Homo sapiens: one gene and its partner. The protein of the gene in region 1 purifies or fractionates together with the protein of each later gene. This does not show direct contact. Each region holds a gene or a part of one and is shown in the gene's direction. Other genes may lie near its edges.

Region 1 (10,439 bases):
CATGAACCCCACCAAGGCACAGGATGCCGGGGTCTACCAGTGCCTGGCCTCCAACCCAGTGGGCACCGTTGTCAGCAGGGAGGCCATCCTCCGCTTCGGCTGTGAGACCCGCGGGGGACCAAGACACTTTGGGGGAGGGGGAGAGGGGGCTAGGAGAAATTACTGAGAAAGGATAAGGGACACCCTCAAGCCGGGCCTTCCTGACCTCACATGACATGCCTTAGTGAACTGCTGCTTCTCCGTGAAGGATGAGTCGGGGAGGGGCTCGCAGGCCAGGAGGACAGTGCCTGAGCCCCTGGTCTCTGCCTCCAGTTCTGCAGGAATTCTCCAAGGAGGAGCGAGACCCAGTGAAAGCTCATGAAGGCTGGGGGGTGATGTTGCCCTGTAACCCACCTGCCCACTACCCAGGTGAGTCCAGACCTGGGGCCAGGGTTAGAGAGGGCACAGGAAGGGCTTCCAGATGCTTGGCAGAGGAAGGATGGAATAAAAGGAGACCCCTGGAAATGACCCTTAGAAGCACCCATCCCTGGGACCCTAACTTTAAATGATCTGTGTTTCCTTTATAGGTCTGTCACTTTCCATCGTTGTGCCCTGCTTCCGCCTTCAAACTGGGTGGCCCCTGAGGGCTGCGATCCCTGGCAGACTTAGCGCTCCCTGAGGGCAGGAATAAAGTCACTTCTTCCCTCTAGGTCTCCCCTTAGCCCCAGTTCAGAGCATGGTGGCTGTCAGGACAGGGCTTGCAGAACCGCACCAGCATGCTGGGGTCCCACCCAGAGTGGCCCTGTTAGCCCAGCACCCCCTGGTTTCCTCAAACTCCTCACATCCTAGGCTTGTCCTACCGCTGGCTCCTCAACGAGTTCCCCAACTTCATCCCGACGGACGGGCGTCACTTCGTGTCCCAGACCACAGGGAACCTGTACATTGCCCGAACCAATGCCTCAGACCTGGGCAACTACTCCTGTTTGGCCACCAGCCACATGGACTTCTCCACCAAGAGCGTCTTCAGCAAGTTTGCTCAGCTCAACCTGGCTGCTGAAGGTCAGGCTTGGCCAGGCGTGGCTGGAGGGAGGGAACTGGAAGGGTCAGCGGGCATTAGGAAAAGGGTTTTTCCTTTGGAGATTGGAAGATCAGCTTGCAGGGCACTGATTCCAGGCCCTGGACCCCCAGATCCTCCTGCTTCAAATCCTGAGGCCCTTGCCCCAGGCCTCAAGGAGATTCCACACAGCTGCCTAGACAGAGTTGGCTCTGAAAGGTGCTGAGATCCCATGCACGGGAGCACCTGACCTGGAGTCATCTGCATCTGATTTGTAAAACCCTCTCTCCCCAGATACCCGGCTCTTTGCACCCAGCATCAAGGCCCGGTTCCCAGCAGAGACCTATGCACTGGTGGGGCAGCAGGTCACCCTGGAGTGCTTCGCCTTTGGGAAGTGAGTGTGAAGAGGGAGGGGAAGCAGAGCACGGTCTCTCGGGGGCACAGGTGACCCCAGGGTGAGGGCAGGCAGAGTCAGGGCTCTTATCTTGGTGTCCCTCACAGGGTCTAGCAAAGTACTGGGCACACAGTGGGTATCGACCACCACTCACTGGACAGTACCTCTCTGGGTGAGGCATCGCATATGCCAGGGGCCTTCCATGGCCAGGATCACTTGGTCTTCCAGCAGTGCATGGCAGGCTCAGACAGCTTGAGTAACACCCAGGGCTGGAGGCAGGCAGCACAGTGTACAGACTCCAACCCTGTCTGTCTCATTCAGATCCCAGCTCTGCCACCCGCAGACCTTGGGTAAACTGCCTAACCTCTCTGTGCCTCAGTTTCTTTATGGTGGTGATAATAGTACCTACCTCATAGGGTTGTCATGAGGATTAAATCAGTTCATATATGTGAGATACTTAGAACAGTGCCTGGAATTTAGTTAAGTGTTCCGTGAATGTTAACAGTGATCTATTTGAGAATGGCAGCAGAAAGTGTTCTCTTTCTCGTACTCCTAGAAGAAGGAGTCACTAGAACAGGGCTAAGCAAATAGCAGGTGCTCAATAAATGTTTGTAGTATGAAAGAAAGAATGTGATTTGTACTTTGGCCCCCTCCTCCCTCAACTATCTCCTATGGTTACCTGGGAGAATCTCTGCCTTGTGGGAAGTTTTGGGCTTCCAGAAAATCCACATGAAAAGCATGTGGAAGTGGGGCCAGGTGCGGTGGTTCATGTCTGTAATCCCAGCACTTTGGGAGGCCGAGGTGGGAAGATCATGAGGTCAGGAGATCGAGACCATCCTGGCTAGCACGGTGAAATCCAGTCTCTACTAAAAATACAAAAAAAACTAGCCAGGTGTGGTGGCGGGTGCCTGTAGTCCCAGCTGCTCGGGAGGCTGAGGCAGGAGAATGGTGTGAACCCGGGAGGCAGAGCTTGCAGTGAGCCAAGATTGCCCCACTGCACTCCAGCCTAGGTGACAGAGCGAGACTCCGTCTCAAAAAAAAAAAAAAAAAAAGAAAAAAAAGAAAAGCATGTGGAAGGGGAATATATTAACCCATTAAAACTGATACCTCAGTCCGTTTTAGTGCACAGATTACTACTAACTAAAGTCCCTTTCAAAGTAGGGGCAAGGCCTGCCCTGTAGAGGCAACGGAAAAGAGAACCCGTAAAGACCCAGGTCACAGGCCACTGTGGCGGAGGGCAGACCCAGAGGCATGGTGACCGGTGCGGGAGAGGGCAGGCCAGCTTCAGGGTGCAGACCCCGCAGAAGCCCGGCTTCACTGGCTCCAGGGTTGTTGCAGGGGGGATGGGTAGAGCAGCCCTGCCTCTTGCCCCTTCCCTGCGTGTGCTCCGAGCCTACCTGGGAGAGGAGAGTGAGGATCAGCCAGAAGGCACCCTCTCTCCCTCTGTTCCTCCCAGGCCCAGCATCTCAGGAGGGCCTGAGAGTCTGGGTATGAGGAGCTGCGGGCACTGGAGGGGTAGGCCCAGCTCAGCCCACACCCTCTGGCTTTGTCTCTCCTGCCAGCCCTGTCCCCCGGATCAAGTGGCGCAAAGTGGACGGCTCCCTGTCCCCGCAGTGGACCACAGCTGAGCCCACCCTGCAGATCCCCAGCGTCAGCTTTGAGGATGAGGGCACCTACGAGTGTGAGGCGGAGAACTCCAAGGGCCGAGACACCGTGCAGGGCCGCATCATCGTGCAGGGTACAGAGCCAGGGACACCTTCTCCGCCCCTCCCGACCCCCCTTCCCGCCTTCACCCTTGTCCCCAAGGAAACAGACCCAAAAGTCAGGGAGGAGACTGGGAGGCCCCCTGCATGAGCCTGCTTGCCCTAGGACTGCACTGAGTCTGGGACCAGAGGAGGCTAGTGCTGTGGTCACCTCAGAGCTTCAGTCAGGGGTGCAGAAAGCACACAGGAGGCTCCAGAATGATTTAAGTTGCAAAAGCAGCCACTGGCACAGCCACAGAGTGCCAGCTTTCTTGTGCCTCCTTCTTCCGGCCCCCTCCTCTTTGTCCTCTCCATCTCAGAATGCTCATGGCGCCCTCTGCTGTCTGGCACAGGTGCTGCTGCCCTGATTTTCTGTTCCTTTTAATGAGCTGGAAGCTCCTCCTAGCTCATGCCAGGTTTTCTTTTCCGGGCTCCCACAGCTCAGCCTGAGTGGCTAAAAGTGATCTCGGACACAGAGGCTGACATTGGCTCCAACCTGCGTTGGGGCTGTGCAGCCGCCGGCAAGCCCCGGCCTACAGTGCGCTGGCTGCGGAACGGGGAGCCTCTGGCCTCCCAGGTAGGAGACATGGGGCTTCCCCCGACACATCACAACTGTCCTCTGCTCACTTGGTTCCCTCCCCCGCCCAGAACTTCCCCTGCACCACTAGTAGCCCCTCTGGGCTAATTAGGGTGTCAGAGGGTGGTCCTAGGACCACCTAAGGACTTCTTCCCATCCCAGTCCCATTGTCACAGGCTAGGCCTGGATCCAGGCACAGTTCAGCCACAAAAGAAGTGATGTGGTCCTGACTGGGTCACCTCACCCTTCCAGCTTTGGGGAGGCCTGGGTAATCTGCATCCTGAGGTTCCAGGCAGCCCTGAGGTAGGACTGGACATATAAGCCATATCCTCTAGGGATTATCAGCCTAGAGTCTCCACTGCTCCCACCCCTGCCAACCCCTCCTCCCTGTGGCTCCTGTGGTCCTGATCCCCCTGGGCTCTGGGCTCTTCTGCACAGAACCGGGTGGAGGTGTTGGCTGGGGACCTGCGGTTCTCCAAGCTGAGCCTGGAAGACTCGGGCATGTACCAGTGTGTGGCAGAGAATAAGCACGGTACCATCTACGCCAGCGCCGAGCTAGCCGTGCAAGGTAAGGGGCCCAGGGAGGCAGGGGACATCCCAAGGACATGCATATGGTGGCTTTCAGAGCTCTGAGTTTAGGTGTTTCCAAACACACATGCACATACCCTGTGGCCATTTTCCTTGGTTTTCCAACAGTTTCTAAGTAGGAGAACTCAGAGATTTAAGAAAGGAGATGAGACACAGGGTTGACAGCTGCCAGAGGGCAGGGTCTCTGACTTGTTCCATGTCTGGCACACAGTAAATGTTTGCTGCAGTGAGTGAAAAAAACAGAAACCAAATCAATCAGATTTGTGTAACCCAACCCTTTCAGCTATGTGAGCTTTGGCAAGTTACTTAGTGTTTCTGTGTTTCAGTTTCTTGATTATAAAATATAGGCAATAATAGTCCTGCCCTCCTGGGCTGCTGTATGGAACAAGTGAGATGAAAGAGGTACAGCATAAAGGGCCTGCCCACCATACAGCAGGTGCCCGGGAAATGTAAGCCAGTGCTAATATTTAGTTGTGTGACTTGAGCTCACTGAGCCTCAGTTTCCTCATCCATAAAATGGACACAGTGATACCCACCACATCAGGTTTTAGTGAAGCTTTGCTAAGAAGCATTCATTCGTTCCTTCATCCATTCAACCACTACTTACTCAACACTTCACAGGGATGAATATAAAAGATACGGTCTCTGCCTTTAAGTAGCTTACAATCCAGTAGAGGGAAAGGGACAAATAAACCCCAAATCAAACAATTAAATAATTTCAGCTAGCCATCAAATATAGTATAAAGAAAATCCAGGCAGGGTGCAGTGGCTCATGCCTGTGTAATCCCAGCACTTTGGGAGGCAGGGGTGAGTGGATCTCCTCAAGCTCAGGAGTTTGAGACCAGCCTGGGCAACATGGTGAAACCCCATGTCTATGAAAAACACAAAATTTAGCCAGGCATGGTAGCACACACGTGTAGTCCCAGCTACACAGGAGGCTGAGGCAGGAGAATCACTTGAGCCCTGGAGGCAGAGGCTGCAGTGAACTGAGATTGTGCCATTGCACTCCAGCCTGGGCAACACAGCAAGACTTGTCTTTTAAAAAAAAAAAAAGAAGAAGAAAGAAAAGAAAAGAAAAAGAAAGAAAGAAAGAAAGAAAGAAAAGAAAAGAAAACCCAGTAGAGTGATGGGCGTGAGATGGGCCTGTTAGGTGGGGTGGTCAGAGAAGTCCTCTCTGAGGAAGTCTCATTTAGACTGTGACCTGAATGTTAAGAAGCCAGCCGCGTGAAGATCTGGGGAATTTCCAGGCAAGATTTACAGCAAGTGCAAAGCTCTGGAGGCAGGAAAAGACTTCACAACTTCAAAAGAGAGAGAGAGAGAAAAAAAAAGGCTAGGTGATTGGAACATAATGAATGGGGGATAGAGTGGAGCAAGATGCGATTGGAAAGGTGGAGACTTATTTGTGAAGAGCCGGGCTTCACTGAGTGTGAGTTGAAAAAGCTGTTCATTCCCAACTGGGTGGAGAAAAGATTGTAGAAGGAAGGTGCAGAAACAGGAAGACTGATGTGGGGTGGCAGGGGTGGTGGTGAGGGGCGGAGGGGGGGCGCGTTGTCAATAGTCCAGGCGGGAGATTTGATAGCTTAGGCCAGAGAAAAAAGGGCTTGGTTCTGGATGCATTCTGGAAGAGGTGCTAATAGGAGTCACTCATGGCGTGGCTTCAAAGGGCACGCCAAGTAACGTCTTAATCAAGGGTGACAGTACTTTTCTCTGTGGCTCTCCCCTTTCCTTCTAGCACTCGCCCCTGACTTCAGGCTGAATCCCGTGAGGCGTCTGATCCCCGCGGCCCGCGGGGGAGAGATCCTTATCCCCTGCCAGCCCCGGGCAGCTCCAAAGGCCGTGGTGCTCTGGAGCAAAGGCACGGAGATTTTGGTCAACAGCAGCAGGTACCACCCACACCCCACCCTGCACAGTTCCTGCTCCTCCTCATTCTCCATGGAGGCCAATTCCCCTCCTGTGACAACAGTCACAGGAGTTGGCCAGCCCCAGGGACAACCATGCCTGAGTTGGCCACATCTGCCTTGTCCTTGCCACAGAGTGACTGTAACTCCAGATGGCACCTTGATCATAAGAAACATCAGCCGGTCAGATGAAGGCAAATACACCTGCTTTGCTGAGAACTTCATGGGCAAAGCCAACAGCACTGGAATCCTATCTGTGCGAGGTGAGGGCTGCCATGTGGGTAGGCCGGGGGCTCAGCCTCCTCAGGGTACTGTCCTCCCCATCATCCTGCTCCTGTGTCCACATTGCTCCTAGTTTGGTGTCAAGGCCACCCCAGGATTCAGTTTTGCTTGGGACCACCCCCTGGCCACCACTGAGACTCTGGTCATGCCTCCCTGCCTGCCACACACTCATGCAGTCCTGGGCAGTTGGGACCTGTGGGTCACACCACCTCTTCTCTTTGCTGGGCCTTAGGACAGAGCCTCTCAGCCTGCCCTGCGGACCCGGCCTGGGCCCATTTCCTCCCCCATCCACCCAAGGGCCTTGTTTTTCTTGGCAGATGCAACCAAAATCACTCTAGCCCCCTCAAGTGCCGACATCAACTTGGGTGACAACCTGACCCTACAGTGCCATGCCTCCCACGACCCCACCATGGACCTCACCTTCACCTGGACCCTGGACGACTTCCCCATCGACTTTGATAAGCCTGGAGGGCACTACCGGAGAACTAATGTGGTGAGACCTAGGGCCAGAGCCCCATGGCTTCTCCCTCCTTCTAGAGAGACAGGGGCCCCAAGATGTCCTTAGCCATCCTCACCTTTAAGAAACCCATAGCCTAAGCGCCCCCATTCCCTCAGGCCCACACATGGCAAGCTCATCCTTGGATGAACAGCTGACCTTCCTGGATTCCACCCAGGGACCATGCATTTAGGAGAGGGTTAGGGACAAACCTGGAGTTGTGGGCAGCCACCAAGACACTCCCACTACTGTTCTTGTTAGCCTGTCCCCTAGGGCAAATGATATTATTAATGTGGACAGTCATTGACTGTCTCCTGAAACAAACTTTGCTGTTTAGTCCCCAGTGGTTCTAAGTGATGAGTCGTGATTCCTCCCATTGAGCAGACAGGAAAACTGAGATCCAGTGGGGTCCATGGATGTCATGGAGTAGGGGACTCCCAAGCGCTGCCTCATGTCTCATGGCCTGCTGCACTGGTCAGGGCCGGTGGTCTGACCTGCTGCCCCTAACTGTCCCCGTGTGCAGAAGGAGACCATTGGGGATCTGACCATCCTGAACGCCCAGCTGCGCCATGGGGGGAAGTACACGTGCATGGCCCAGACGGTGGTGGACAGCGCGTCCAAGGAGGCCACAGTCCTGGTCCGAGGTGAGGGGTTTCCCACCTCTACCCCTACCCCAACTCCCTTAAAACCCAGCTGGGCTGTTCTGACCTGCTCGCCTCATCTCCCCTCCCTTCCCTCAAAGCTGCGGGGAAGGGCTTCCGGCGGAACTCCTGTGAGCTGGATATACCCTGTGGTTCTTCACAGGTCCTAAATGATCAGGACATTTTTCTTCCAAAGTCAAAGTTTAAAAAATCCACTCCTAAACACATCCCAAGACAGGAGTGCTTTACTGAGCCCTGAAGTTTTCAAAGCCTAGTGCTGGGAGATCTATGCACCTCTCCATGTGACAGCCTCTGTGAGCTCCCCCAGCCTTGAGACACATCCCTCCACCCAACAACTGGCACCCGCCCCAACTGCCCACACCCCTTGCCCGCCCTCCCGCCTGGGTGTGTGTTCACTGCATCCTCTGCTGCCCTGTCTTGGTACTGTACCAGCTCAAGCCTGGCTGGGAGGAGGTTGGCTCAAATTGGAAGCTGCCCAATTCTGACCCACTGTGCTCTGACCTCTTGGTGCAGGTCCGCCAGGTCCCCCAGGAGGTGTGGTGGTGAGGGACATTGGCGACACCACCATCCAGCTCAGCTGGAGCCGTGGCTTCGACAACCACAGCCCCATCGCTAAGTACACCCTGCAAGCTCGCACTCCACCTGCAGGGAAGTGGAAGCAGGTTCGGACCAGTAAGTGTGAGCCCCACCTGGGTCAGTGCTGATAAGGCTCGACTGGGTGTAGGAGGTGGAAAGGGTCAAGGTTTGGGGATCGGGGTCTGAGGGCCAGGGCTGAGCCTGGAGCTTCAAAGAGGGACAAGATCTGTCCTCTGCCAGCAGAGAGCATGCAGGCAGGCAGGAAGACAGTCACACAGAAAGTAGGAGAGTCGGGAAAGAGTTAGAAGAGGAGGCGCTTGGTCTATGCCCTTGAAGAATTGGTAGGATTGTTACTGGAGCAATGAAAATATTCATGGGGACATAGGGGCGTAGGCGTGCACACAGCATTGCAGAGGCACCAAGATAGGGAAATTGAGTAGTTTTTCAATCATTTCTGAAAAAGGTACTGAGTGCTTAGTATATGGCAAGTACCGAAGTGAGGGCTGGGTAGATAAGGGGTGATTCAGGCCAGTGCCTGCCCTCTGCACCCAGATGAATAAGCGAATGCTGGAATATGGACTCCCTGGTGCCTTGCAGATCCTGCAAACATCGAGGGCAATGCCGAGACTGCACAGGTGCTGGGCCTCACCCCCTGGATGGACTATGAGTTCCGGGTCATAGCCAGCAACATTCTGGGCACTGGGGAGCCTAGTGGGCCCTCCAGCAAAATCCGGACCAGGGAAGCAGGTGAGAGTCCTGTGTGTCCCAAAAAGCTATCATCAGGGCAGAGACCCTGGCACCACTTATAGGGAATGCCAAGCCAGCCGCAATTATGCTGAGTTCCAACCCTGCTCACAGGGTTCAGACTCTCACAAAACAGAGGAGGACAGAACACCAAGTTGGGACCAGGGCCACTGCATGGACAAACCATCTAGTCCAAACTCCTCATTTAAAAACTGGCCAACCTTACAACTGCATGTGCATCTATAATTTTTTTAAGTTTAATTTTTAAAAGTGGAAAAACCAAAGTTCGGAGAAAGGAAGAGTCACATTGACAGAGCTTGGACTTGAACCCAGGACCATGGGGTGGTAGACAGATGTCTTCCTGGAAGAGTATGCACTACAGAAATCAGTTAATGCTGGCTGGGCGCAGTGGCTCAAGCCTGTAATCCCAGCACTTTGGGAGGCCGAGGCAGGCAGATCACCTGAGGTCAGAAGTTTGAGACCAGCCTGGCCAACATGGTGAAACCCCGTCTCTACTAAAAATACAAAAATTAGCCAGGCGTGGTGACACACACCTGTAAATCCCAGCTACTCGGGAGGCTGAAGCAGGAGAATCGCTTGAACCCGGGAGGTGGAGGTTGCAGTGAGCCAAGATTGTACCACTGCACTCCATCCTGGGCGACAGAGCGAGACTCCATCTCAAAAAAAAAAAAAAAAAAAAAAAAAAAAGAAAGAAAAAAAGGAAATCAGTTGATGTGAAAGATGTGTGTGTGTTCTGTGCAGGGGGCTAGGGAAGCAGCCAGTGTCTCCAAGCCTTTAGATGGTTTCTTTGGGAGCAGATGGAATTGAATAACCTGCCCACAACCCTCAGCAAAAAGCGTGTGGGTGTCAGAACTTGAGTGGAGAAGGAGGGGGAGAAAAGAACCCAGGAGAGAGTAGGGGAGGCACAGGCTCCAGTCAGCATCTGCTGAGAGGCTCCTGCCCATCTCCGAGCCATTCGCAGGGGAAGGCCTGGAATGAGAGCCCGGGGATCCTGGGACCAGGAGCATAGATTAAGGACCCTGCCTCACCTCCTCTACAGACCTGTTGCACTGGATGTGTAGTGAGGGTCCACCTTCTTGTCTGCCTGAAACATGTTCTCCTACATGCCCCAGACTGACTCTCCAGGCCCTTTTTCTAGAATCACTCAACATTTTTAGCTGGTACCTCTCCTGAGTAAGAAATTCCAGAGGCAGCACTTTCTTTGATTGATCCTGAACTTCTTGGAGGGTCAAATGTGGAGAAATGAGGGGACTCCTTTATTCTATTTACAGCATCCCAGTAGCTGAGGAGCACAAAGACAGCTGTGATGCAAAGGAAACATGATGGGCTTTAAAATGAGAAGGGCTGAGTTCAGATTCTACCTGTGCCATGTATTAACTGTGTGACCTTAGGCAAGTTGATTAACTGCTCTGGGCCTCAGTCTTTC
Region 2 (10,901 bases), on another chromosome or scaffold:
TTTTGTCAAGAATGTGACAATTTAGGCAAGCTTGTTTGTCAAATGTTTAAATCCATCTTTTGCCCCAAATAAAACAACTCTGCATCCTTCCCATGGCTATCTACACAATATTCATTATCATCAGTCTCACCCTATTTTGAAAGTTTAAGGATTTTATGGGTTTTCTTAGAAACCAAATGAAGTACCATACATGAGAATGTGTGTCGACATTAAGTAGATTTGGAGCATTCCATAATATTCCTCTAGTTCCACTTAGACCAAAGATGATAGTCTGTATCAGCTACTGCCTTTTTTTCTTCCTGTAGTCCTCACAAATCATTTTTAATTTTATTTACATTTGTTCTTTACATACAAGCTCATCTCCTCTTAAGTACCTGAACAAAGTATCACAATACCTCTCCTCCATTATTTAGAACCAGATAATATCCCAGGGCTGGAATTCAGTGGTCATGACTATTGTTTTCATTTGCTATTTCAATATGCACCTCTGTATTCACTTACTACCAAAAAGATTTCACAGGCCCCATTCCAAGAGGAAGTCACAGACATAGACATAACCCTCCAGTTCAAGTCATTTCTATCTTTAAGCCAAATCAAAGAAATTGTATTTGGAATGAAGGCTGTTGCCTAATTCTTCATAGAATTTTATCCATCTCCTCTTCTATGCTCTCACTCACCCTCGTTCCCCTGAGATGAAATCATATTAACTCTTGATGTTTATTAACCCAAATATTTTCCGTGGACTTACTGATCTCCTTTTTGGGAGTAAATTCTACCCAATTCCCTGTGGTCTAAAATGTATAATCATGACATCAGTAGAAGGATAAAAGTTTAAATAACCTGTCTGACAAGAAAAGTCCACATAAAACTTCACACAATCTGCTGTTAAAGTAGTAATAGCATACATCTCTAAATTCAGACTAAGATACTTTCCACAGCCTAGCTACTCATGTCACAAATTTCACACAAAAGTCAGCAAAATCTGCATTCGCCTATGTGATTTAGACACATTACTCAATTCTATCAAATCAAATGACCTGAGTTATAAAATCTAAAGGTCTTTAAGCCCTTGCCCATAAGACTGTGCTTCATAAATGTACTCAACAGCCTTCCTATTATAGTTTAGTATTTTGCATTAAAACAAACCTTTGATGATAAATTGCAAACTGTGAGCTGGTTATACTGTAACAAGTCCTACTTCCTGCTGCAGGCAGTCTACTTTGGGTAGCCATACTGATTAGACCAACTACCCTCCAACTTAATCCTGGATTTTTTCAGGAAACAATCCACTCATAAACTTGAATATTTCAGCAGCAACCACTTCTGGAACTGCAATTCTGAGAGCCTGACTGCCTCTCTGTAACCAGCCTGTAACGCTGAAAGGCCTTTTTCTCCCCTCTCCTTCATCTCCTGAAACTACTGCTTTAGGAAATGGGTCCTCCTTGTTGCTTAGACAGTCTGTACATCTATAACATAAGGTCTAGTCTCAATGGAGTAGTAATACTTTAATGCTTAGAATAATTTTAAACAACTCTATTTTTCTCTCTTTTAATTGAAACAAAGATAATTTTCAAAATCTTAAGAAGTGATCTTTGTTGGAAAATATGTACTTCAGTTCACAAGCCCCACATCTTGCCTTATGTTTCTATAGACCTTACTTTCTCATAGTTCTTTCAAATTCCAAATATATTTCCAAAATTTTATTCCAATATGCATTTTATTTTTTCACACTGCTTTCACATTAATATATAAATTGATCTTAATGTTCAGACAATTTGACATAACTTCTCATTGATAAAAGATTTTTTCTAATCCAGAAAAAAATCTAAATGGTTTTTCAATATGAATTTATTGAGGGATAAACTTAAGATTCTAGAACTTCAGTTTAGAACTTTGAGGTATATTAATTTATCTGGATAATAATAATAGTACTGGTAGTTAATCTATAGAGAACACTTTCTGTGCCTGGTATAATATATAAATTATGTTTAATTCCCAAAATAATCAAGTTTTATGGGTATAAATACTACTCTGATCTTATAGGTGAGAAAATGAAAGCATCCAGTGTGCGGGTAAGGTCACACAAAGAGTTTGTAGGCCAATACACAAATCCCAGAGACCAGGCTCAATTTCCACTCTAACTTGCTTCCTGAATGACCATCTGGTTCTTCCTAATTTCTATGTGATTATGACACTCAAAAGAAATTCACTTAAAATCTGGGCAACAGAGCTGCGCTGTGACCCCCACCTCACCCCGCAGAACATGAAGAATGCAATAAATATTAAGGTCAAGTTTTATATTCTAAATTTACAAATTAGTTTAACTATTTTTCCTCCCAGTTTCTTATATTAATTGAAAGTATGTTTACCAGTGCATTAAGACCACCCTTTGCTGACTTTACCTTTCCTACTAACATTAAACAGCCAAAACATGAATTGTTTCTTTAGCAATATATTCAAGGTGTTTAATCCAAATAACACTCGGTATCATGCATTTCCCTGAGACCTTTAAAATAAAGTGAAATTTTGGAAATCCCTTTAAGTTTATGCATCTTCCTCAGTATGTCATTCCAATTGATACTTGATTATGATATGAAGTATCTCAGAGTGCCCAGGGACAATTAGCAGGGCTAAAGGACCAAAATCCAGGTAGATTTTTCAGCTCACCAGAGGTTTTACTATGGGACTCTACTTTATCCTGTTCATGCTCACTAAAGAATAACATTCCAGACAGCTTGTATATTTTCAGAGAAGCAGGTGCTAAAGCCTTCTTAGAGGGTGCAATCAGACTGGCAAATGTATCTACTCTAATTTGGCCGATTTTTCAGCAGGCATTCACTGATTTCTGGGCATAGTTGGACAGCTCCCTTTACAGAAGGAAATTCTACTCCAAGGCACTCACCTAGACATATACCAATTTTTTTTAACCTATTGAAAATTCCTGAATTTTTCCAGTGCTTCATGCAATCACTTCAAAGTGTTAAGATTGAAATATTTTGACTCTTTTTTTTCACTTAAGTTCCAAAATTTGGGCAGACTTTTGAGATAATTTACATTGTGGCAGACTATTTACAGAACTCTGGAATAATAATGATGATTGTGATAAAAATAATTTTTATATTTGTTGAGAATATTAATTTTAAGAATGTATTAAGATATTGGAAAAAAAGAGCCAGTCAAGATTTACTTGAATTAATGTTAGCATAAAGATGATATGGACTTATTTTGGTCCGTTTATTCAACCACTCACTACCAGTGTAATATCCATCTTGGTCATAGGCATAAACTCTATGTAGCATAATGCCAAACCCAATAATAGTAGATATTCAATTAATATTGGGGATGCAAATGAAGAATGTGTATACTGCTAATGAAGTCACTACTCATGGGATCAAGCTAACATTTTTTAAAAATCTGTTGAAGTAAAGAGGATGTGAGCAGTGGGAAAGAGAAAATGTCTATTCTTTATTATTTTCCATTGCTCTACTTCCAAAATAATGCAAATTGCCCACTGTCTTTTCTGGTCATGCTGTGCATTTGGGGGAGGTGGGGCTGGGGTGGGGGGGCCGGTGGGTGGGTTTGTGTGTGTGTACCGTTGGTCCACTTAGTTTTACTACTTTCAAGCTTTAATTGACCTTACTTCCAACTAAGGAGACATATGTTCAAATCATTATTAGCTGTCTTCAATTATTTGCAAACATCAATGTAATATAGAAATCAATAATGAATTCACTCTCAGAAACAAGAAATTTCATGCTTATCATATCTACTAGACATCTGGTTGGACTGTTGTAAGTCCATTGACTGGATTACCAGTTTTGCTGGACCGTGTAGTTTGACCAGAACAAACAGACTTACTAATTCCTACCTTCTCACTAAAAGTCATAGTGATAACTGAAGGAAGAAGAAGCTTAATTCTAAATTCTAATTGTAATAATGATGAAAATATAAACTCTAATGGAGTTGGATAGGAAGAACATAGCATTATACTCTAGGGAGTCTCTGATCTGGCAACAATTAAAGTCTTAAGACTTTAAGTATTTTGAGTTCCAGATGTCCATATCTAATTAACACAAATTGAAGGCAGAGGTAGTTGTGTTACAAATGATGTGACATAACTTTCAAACCTGACAAAGTGCATTGAAAACAGATTAAAGCAGGCTCTTAGCTCATACTGGCATGAAATAAGACCATCCTATATGGCACAGAGGTGGTGCAGGTATTTACATGTGTTATTAAATTGAGTTTTGTTGTTTCTCATTAGGAGAAATTACTACAAACTGATCAGAATGCTCTTTGGAGAAGAATACACCCTCAGGTATATCATTTTCTGTTACAAAATAATTAAATAGATGTCTATTGCATGTCTTTTAGTTTGGTAATCTGGGAAATGGAATTGTTTCAGTTCTGCTTGAGATACCCATGGAATAGCATTCATTGAGTTACTGAAATGGTAATACTTTCAATCGCTGCCTTTTTTCTTCTATTGAAAATACTTTAATGCTATGTTATTGGAGTTCAGTATGATAGTTAAAATGGAGAGGCATAGTTAAATAATAGATTGTTCTGAAAAGTTACGCTTTCTGACAGTTTTTTTTTTTCCTATGACTTGTTTCTTTGAGCTCTTAGAAATGGCTGATGGCAGTTCTTTACTGGAGTGTTTTGGCAAGTGGTCATTGACTTTTGACAGTCTGTGATAATTCAAACAGCAAAGGGACATTTTATAATCCATAAGAATGCATTTGCTGTATTATTTTACAGGAGGAGTATTTTATAGAATGAGGAGGCAGTTCACCTCCCATTAGTCATCTGTGTGTTTCTTCATTTTCCATATTGTACCCAATCTGCAGTTCTTACTAGGACAAAGCATCCTTTTAAATTAACAAGAAACAAAGATCAAATAAAAAGCGCTGAATCAGACCCATTAACACCATATTAATTATGCAGTGAATACACAGTACTATTTACAGTGGACCTTTCTAAGACCAAACAATGATGTTAAAAACTCAGTTTATTCCAGGATTAGGCAAGCCTCCATAAATTTTCTATTTATCTTTAAATGCAAATGCTTATTCATTGCATAACATCGAAAGACATGGTTACTCCTACTTAGTCCTCCACAAACATCATTAGATATTTAGATGACCAATAATTTTTAATTGTGTCAATAAAGTCAGTGGAATGCTTGGCTCTGCAGAGACATAAGAATTCAAATACTTTAAGTAGACTAGATGGAAGAAAAACATATGGAGGGTAGAGTGTGAAGAGCTGTGAGCTGGGGAGAAGAGCTTGATAATTATTATTAAAATTATCTAAATGTGAAAAAATCTAGGTCTCTCTAAACATTCTTAATTCTTAGTGCTTGCAATGCCTCAGGTACCTTGAAATAGTTACCCATATGCCTGCTTATGTATTTCCGTTTTGTGTTTGTGTTTGTATGCGTGTTTGCCTAAGTGTAGTTTCTCCTGGCAGCAGCGTGTGTTTGGTGTACGTGTGCATATGTATGAGTACGAATTAATTACATATCGAAAACATGTGCATTAACGGCATCTGCAGTCCTCCCTCCCTGCTCCAGTCAGTCGGGATGTTTAGCACCGTCACTTGGTGTTAGGACCACTCGGAAGACCTGCCTGTCGGACGCCTGACTGTGGTTCCCGGGGGGCCGGAGCTCCAGGAGCCTGTACCATCTTTATCTGAAGGGGAGGAGAGAAGGAAAGGAGAAGGCATCCGAGCGAGGGTGTTCTCCTTCCTGCAGCCGGGTAGGGGGCAGCCAGGTTTGGAGCAGGGTTCTAGGATTACACGGCAAATCCCCAACTTCAGCACCGCGGACAGCATCACCTCCCGCCCAGGGAGAGGCGCGCGCCTCCTTGCTCCGCCCCCGCCCCAGCTGATGGACCCCGGCCGGTCGGCTCAGTCTCCCTTTTGCTTTCAAACGAGGCCAGGGCAGGGCAGAAGGGTTTTGACAGCCAGAGGGGTACGGTAAGGAGGAGGAAGAGGAGGAGGAGGCGGAGGAGGAGGAGGAGCCGAGGAGGGAACCGAGAAGGGAAGAGAAGGGAGGGCTTCCCTCCGCCTCGCTCGCCGCCCGGGCTCACAGGAGCTGGCGGCGGCGGCGGCGGCGGCGGCGTCTCCTGCTCTCCGCGGCTGTTGCTGCTGCTCGCGCTCCGCCGCCCGGGAGATGCTTCCTCGCGCGGCGCAGCGCTGAGGCCGTGCGTGCGCCCCGGCTGCGCTGCGCGCTCCCCACATACACAAGCTCTCCATGTGAGCTGACAGGCGAGTGGAAACCCCTCGAGTCACGCTGCCCGGCGGCGGAGGGAGCGCTCGCCCGCAGTGGCAACAGCTGCACCACCGTCCCCGTCGCTCTGCCTTCCTCTTCTGCAGCCTCTGCTCTTCTGATTACCTCCCTCCCCCGTCCTTTGGTGATTTTTTTTTTTCAAGAAGGAGAGGGCGGGGTAGGTGTCCGTTCCCTCCCCTCTTCCCCCTCCTTTGCCTTCTTGGTTTGAATTTCCTCCCCCGGCGTTGCACTGGCACACAGTGCAAGAGGCAATACCCGCACGGAGGGAGAACGAAGGCTGAGACTCCCCTGCCGCTCCAAGCCCGGAAGAACTGGAGCCTGGAGGGGGGTGAGGGGAGAAGAGGAAGCGGGAGGGGCTTGGCTTCCTCGCGTATTTGAGGACAGCCCATCTCCCTTCAAGAACCCTACGGAGAGTCGGACTGCATCTCCGCAGCGAGCTCTTGGAGCGCCGCCGGCCGGGAGGCGAAGGATGCAGGCGGCTCCGCGCGCCGGCTGCGGGGCAGCGCTCCTGCTGTGGATTGTCAGCAGCTGCCTCTGCAGAGCCTGGACGGCTCCCTCCACGTCCCGTAAGTAGCCGTCTCCTCGCTCTGCTCTGGAGCAGTTTCAGTGCGGCATTGATGTTTGGCACCAGGGTATCAACTCCGAAGTGCATCGCAGTGCTGGCACCCTGATGTGTTTGTGTCTCCGCTGTCACACACTTGCAGCCACTGCAGTAGACAAACTCGAAACCCAGCGTTTCTGTTTTGGAAGAGACAGGGTTGTGACGCTGGTGATGTTTCTGGAAAGTTGTTCCTGGTCTTGGTGATCGGTTGGCAAGAGCTTGGCTAGAGAGACTGATGTAGATGGCAGCTTCTTAGGAGTTGTTTGTGCAGGGAGAGTTAACTGCATTTGGCTTAGGTAGGTCAGTGAATGAAAAGTGAAGACCATGGCAAAACCAAGTTTCTTATTTTTATTTATGGTTATAACTTAATGAGCACGGGGTTGAGGTTAACAAGAGGAGCATGTTTTAAACAGTTTGGGCACCTATAGGGTCTCTTTAACCTCTCCCGTTCCCTTAAAAAGTTAATGCCCATTTAGTACTTGCTTATTAAAATGGAAGGCAGCGAAATTGTAACTGAAATTGCTTTAATTCTTTGATACTTTGATATCATGGATATGACTGATGCAGTACGGTACTTGGGACACTCAGTGCAAAGCGTCGTTAATGTAGTAATAAACAGATTCTTAATAGGGTTTTCAGGAAAATAATTATATTCAATATGTATATCTCTGCATTTTAATCAACTGTGTGTGTGTGTTTGTGTGTGTGTGTGTTTAAGACTGCCCCTGTTTTCATGAGGTTTAGAAAGAAATGGAAGATTCTGGCCCATTTTCTGCATTCCTTTAGAAGTGCATACTGTGCATGTAGAGAGGAAATGCATGATTGTTCCTTTGGTTCAGAAAGAGTTAAACACTAGAAAGACTGCCTATAGGAATCTTAGGATAATATTCATAAGCGCATACTAGTTTCTGAGAATGAGTAAGTTGATAAAGAATTATCGTGGAGATTTCAGAGTTTAAAAGGAAGATTTTTTTGTCCATTTAGGAAAAGAAAAGTTTAATATTTTCCAGAATTCGTCATATGCGAAGTAGTCTTTGTTTCTAAGATTTTGGGATGTATTAATGCATCTTTGTTAATAATGATCTTATTGTAGTGGTAAATATCAACAGGAATAGCATTGAAAAAGGACATTATAAGTTGTAATAAGGAATCTACTATATAATATCCGGTTATGAGCCAGTATTACTGTTTTGACATATCTTCCTAAGTACAGTATTAGCTTTTCTTTTCCCACAATGTGTAAAGATAAGGAGATAAACTAACTGGCAATCTAAGTTTGTAATGAACTTGAAAACATTGTATAGCATTTTTTATAACACAAGTTAAATCACAAAGAGTTAAATATTGTTAATATTTATGTCAATTTTATAAATTTAAACAAATTTTGGGGATATAATGCTTGCTGTTGATATTTACACAAATATGTAACTCTATCACTGGGAAACTAGTTTGATGAAATTTCTGTTTCCATTTCAAGGTCTGGTTGTATAGAATTTCCTGCCACTTTTCCTGGAAAATAAACTCCTCATATATTAAATTTATTATATTCACTGATTGAAGGTCCTCATATCCAGGGTTTTTCCTGGGTTCTGTGTTCCATCATTCTGTATACTTTAATTTTGATGGGTCCATCTGAAACATCTGCCATGAGTAGCAAATGGAACACTGGCAGCCCTTGGGTTAATGCATTTTAAGATAAAAAAGTTGTTATTTCATAAATATTTTCTGAGTTTTCAACTTTATAGTTAGAATTTGAAGACAGAGAACATAGAAACAATTACTTTTAAGATGGTTAATAGTTATGGCCATTAAGATTTTTTATTAACTTGGCTTTCATTCTCTATTGTTTAAAAATGTGTAATGGCTTAATTAAGGTGGCTTTTTATTTCGTTTGAATTTAAACTGTGTGACCAAAATGCAAAGTTGCCCTATATCCTGGAAATGAATTAAATAATAAGGATGCTACAGAACTTTATTGATTAGAATGAGTTTCATGGATTCAGTACTTTAAATATCAACTGTACTTTACATTAATGAACATTTTTATTTACATTATATATAGCTCTGAAGAAAAGTATGATAGTTATATTCTTAATATAAAACATTCAAAGGAGAAAAAGATGGAAACTACATGAATCTAAGATAATGAGCAACTCAACCAGGAGAGGTCATCACAAGACAAAAAGTAGCATGAAAATCTAAAACTATCATTTTTCTTTGGTACACATTTTTAAAATGTGATGAGTATGCTAAAACTTTCTGTTCCTAAATACCTTTTTAATATGAGGGACAGAAGATGTTTATTTCACAACAACTGCATTTCAAATATGTATTTGCTTATGACTTATTTCTTTTTCTCTGTCGACAGACATATAAAAACTGTTAATACTATGTGTTGTACAAGCAGACTAGAATAAACTTGAAAACAAAGCTCATCACTATGGTTATGTAAAAATATAATCTAATTTCTTTGCAGATAGCGAAAATGAACTGCTGCTGAGCTGATGTAACAAATCGTGTATCTTCCCTTCCTGTAAATGTAGATACACGGGACACACGTGGGAAGTTTAAAGAAAATATTTCACTCTTAGGGAGTTGCATTTATTTGAACATATTATAAAGACCTTGATGGTGCAGTTCTAAATGATGAGGAGATTAAGCTAGCGCTTAATAAATTCACTTTTTAGAGTTAACTGAATTTTCACTTAAATAAATGATCTCTCATAAAGGCCAATTTACATCATTTAGTAGAACTATTAACCTATAATTTCATTGACCAACACATTTGGGAAATGTGTTTTGAATTAATTCACATATTCTCTAACAAATACGATTTTATACGTGTATATATACACACACATGAATATATATGTGTATAAATATATATGTATTTGTTCATATGTTTTATAAAAACATTTGAATACATGTTATAAAGTACATAGATACATATTTAATATAGCACATATATTAAGTATTATATGTAAAAATGTGTATATTTATATATTTTCTAAAACACCATTCAAGGAATTTAAGTTGTTTACAAGTTTATAGAAAGGTCTTTTTCCAGTGCAATTATTTTAAGTAACTAACGCAACAATATTAAGCAATAGTATATTAGTCTATTTTCTCTTCCTCAATTCATATACTTCTCCCAAAATGGTGTATTTTAAATGTAAAATATGTAAATGCATATAAAAGCAAATACTGCTGGTTTATAGAGACCTTGAACATAATAATGAACTTGTCTTAATGAAAACAATTTAAACTTAAAAGGAGCTTTAGGCAAGCAAAATTCATTGGTTGATAAAGCATAGCACATTATTTGCTTAATGCAACTAATAATTATTAACTAATTGGAGAGAAATGTATAATCTCGATTTTATTATAGGCACGGATATTCAGGAAGTAAGAATCATTGTTCAAATTTTACTCTTTACCATCAATATATGGCAAAATTGGGCAAAAAAATTAATCCACAAATTTAATTTAGGTCTTATTAACCTTTATGCAGTTATAAACCTACAACGTATCATTTTAGATGATATCAAAGTTGTTTGGTGCATATCATATTTTAAATCTTACAGTTATGTGCCCCATAATGACATTTCAGTTCAATGATGGACCACGTGTATGTTGGTGGTTCCATAAAATTATAATGGAGCTGTCATATATAGGTGTGCCATTTTTCATCTTGTATATTATATTTTTACTGTATCTTTTCCATGTTTAAGTATGATGAGATACACAAAGAGGCATTGTGTTATAATTGCCTATAGTATTCAGTGTAATAACATGCAGTACAGGTTTGTAGCCCAGAAGCAACAACCCATACCAAATAGTCTATGCTATGTGTGTAGTAGGCTACACTGTCTAGGTTTGTGAGTGTGTACTCTATGATGTTGGCACAAAGACAAAATTGCCTAAGGATACATTTCTCAAAATATATCCTTATTGTTAGGAAATGCATGATGATATATGTTTTTTGTCTATTTTAAGTGGGAAAACCTT

What was found.
Region 2: the proteins of CNTN2 (region 1) and CNTNAP2 purify together in Homo sapiens (affinity purification with western blotting; 2 studies listed by BioGRID). This does not show direct contact.

What each region holds. Positions count from the first base shown.
Region 1 is NC_000001.11:205,058,256-205,068,694, forward strand, and holds part of CNTN2 (contactin-2 precursor), read left to right. Parts: coding exon 1-101; intron 102-312; coding exon 313-408; intron 409-828; coding exon 829-1,038; intron 1,039-1,327; coding exon 1,328-1,427; intron 1,428-2,989; coding exon 2,990-3,165; intron 3,166-3,609; coding exon 3,610-3,746; intron 3,747-4,184; coding exon 4,185-4,314; intron 4,315-6,066; coding exon 6,067-6,217; intron 6,218-6,367; coding exon 6,368-6,495; intron 6,496-6,831; coding exon 6,832-7,007; intron 7,008-7,533; coding exon 7,534-7,654; intron 7,655-8,185; coding exon 8,186-8,344; intron 8,345-8,845; coding exon 8,846-8,995; intron 8,996-10,439. UniProt on the Homo sapiens protein: In conjunction with another transmembrane protein, CNTNAP2, contributes to the organization of axonal domains at nodes of Ranvier by maintaining voltage-gated potassium channels at the juxtaparanodal region. May be involved in cell adhesion.
Region 2 is NC_000007.14:146,110,116-146,121,016, forward strand, and holds the start of CNTNAP2 (contactin-associated protein-like 2 precursor), read left to right. Parts: upstream 1-6,685; 5' UTR 6,686-6,761; coding exon 6,762-6,858; intron 6,859-10,901. UniProt on the Homo sapiens protein: Required for gap junction formation. Required, with CNTNAP1, for radial and longitudinal organization of myelinated axons.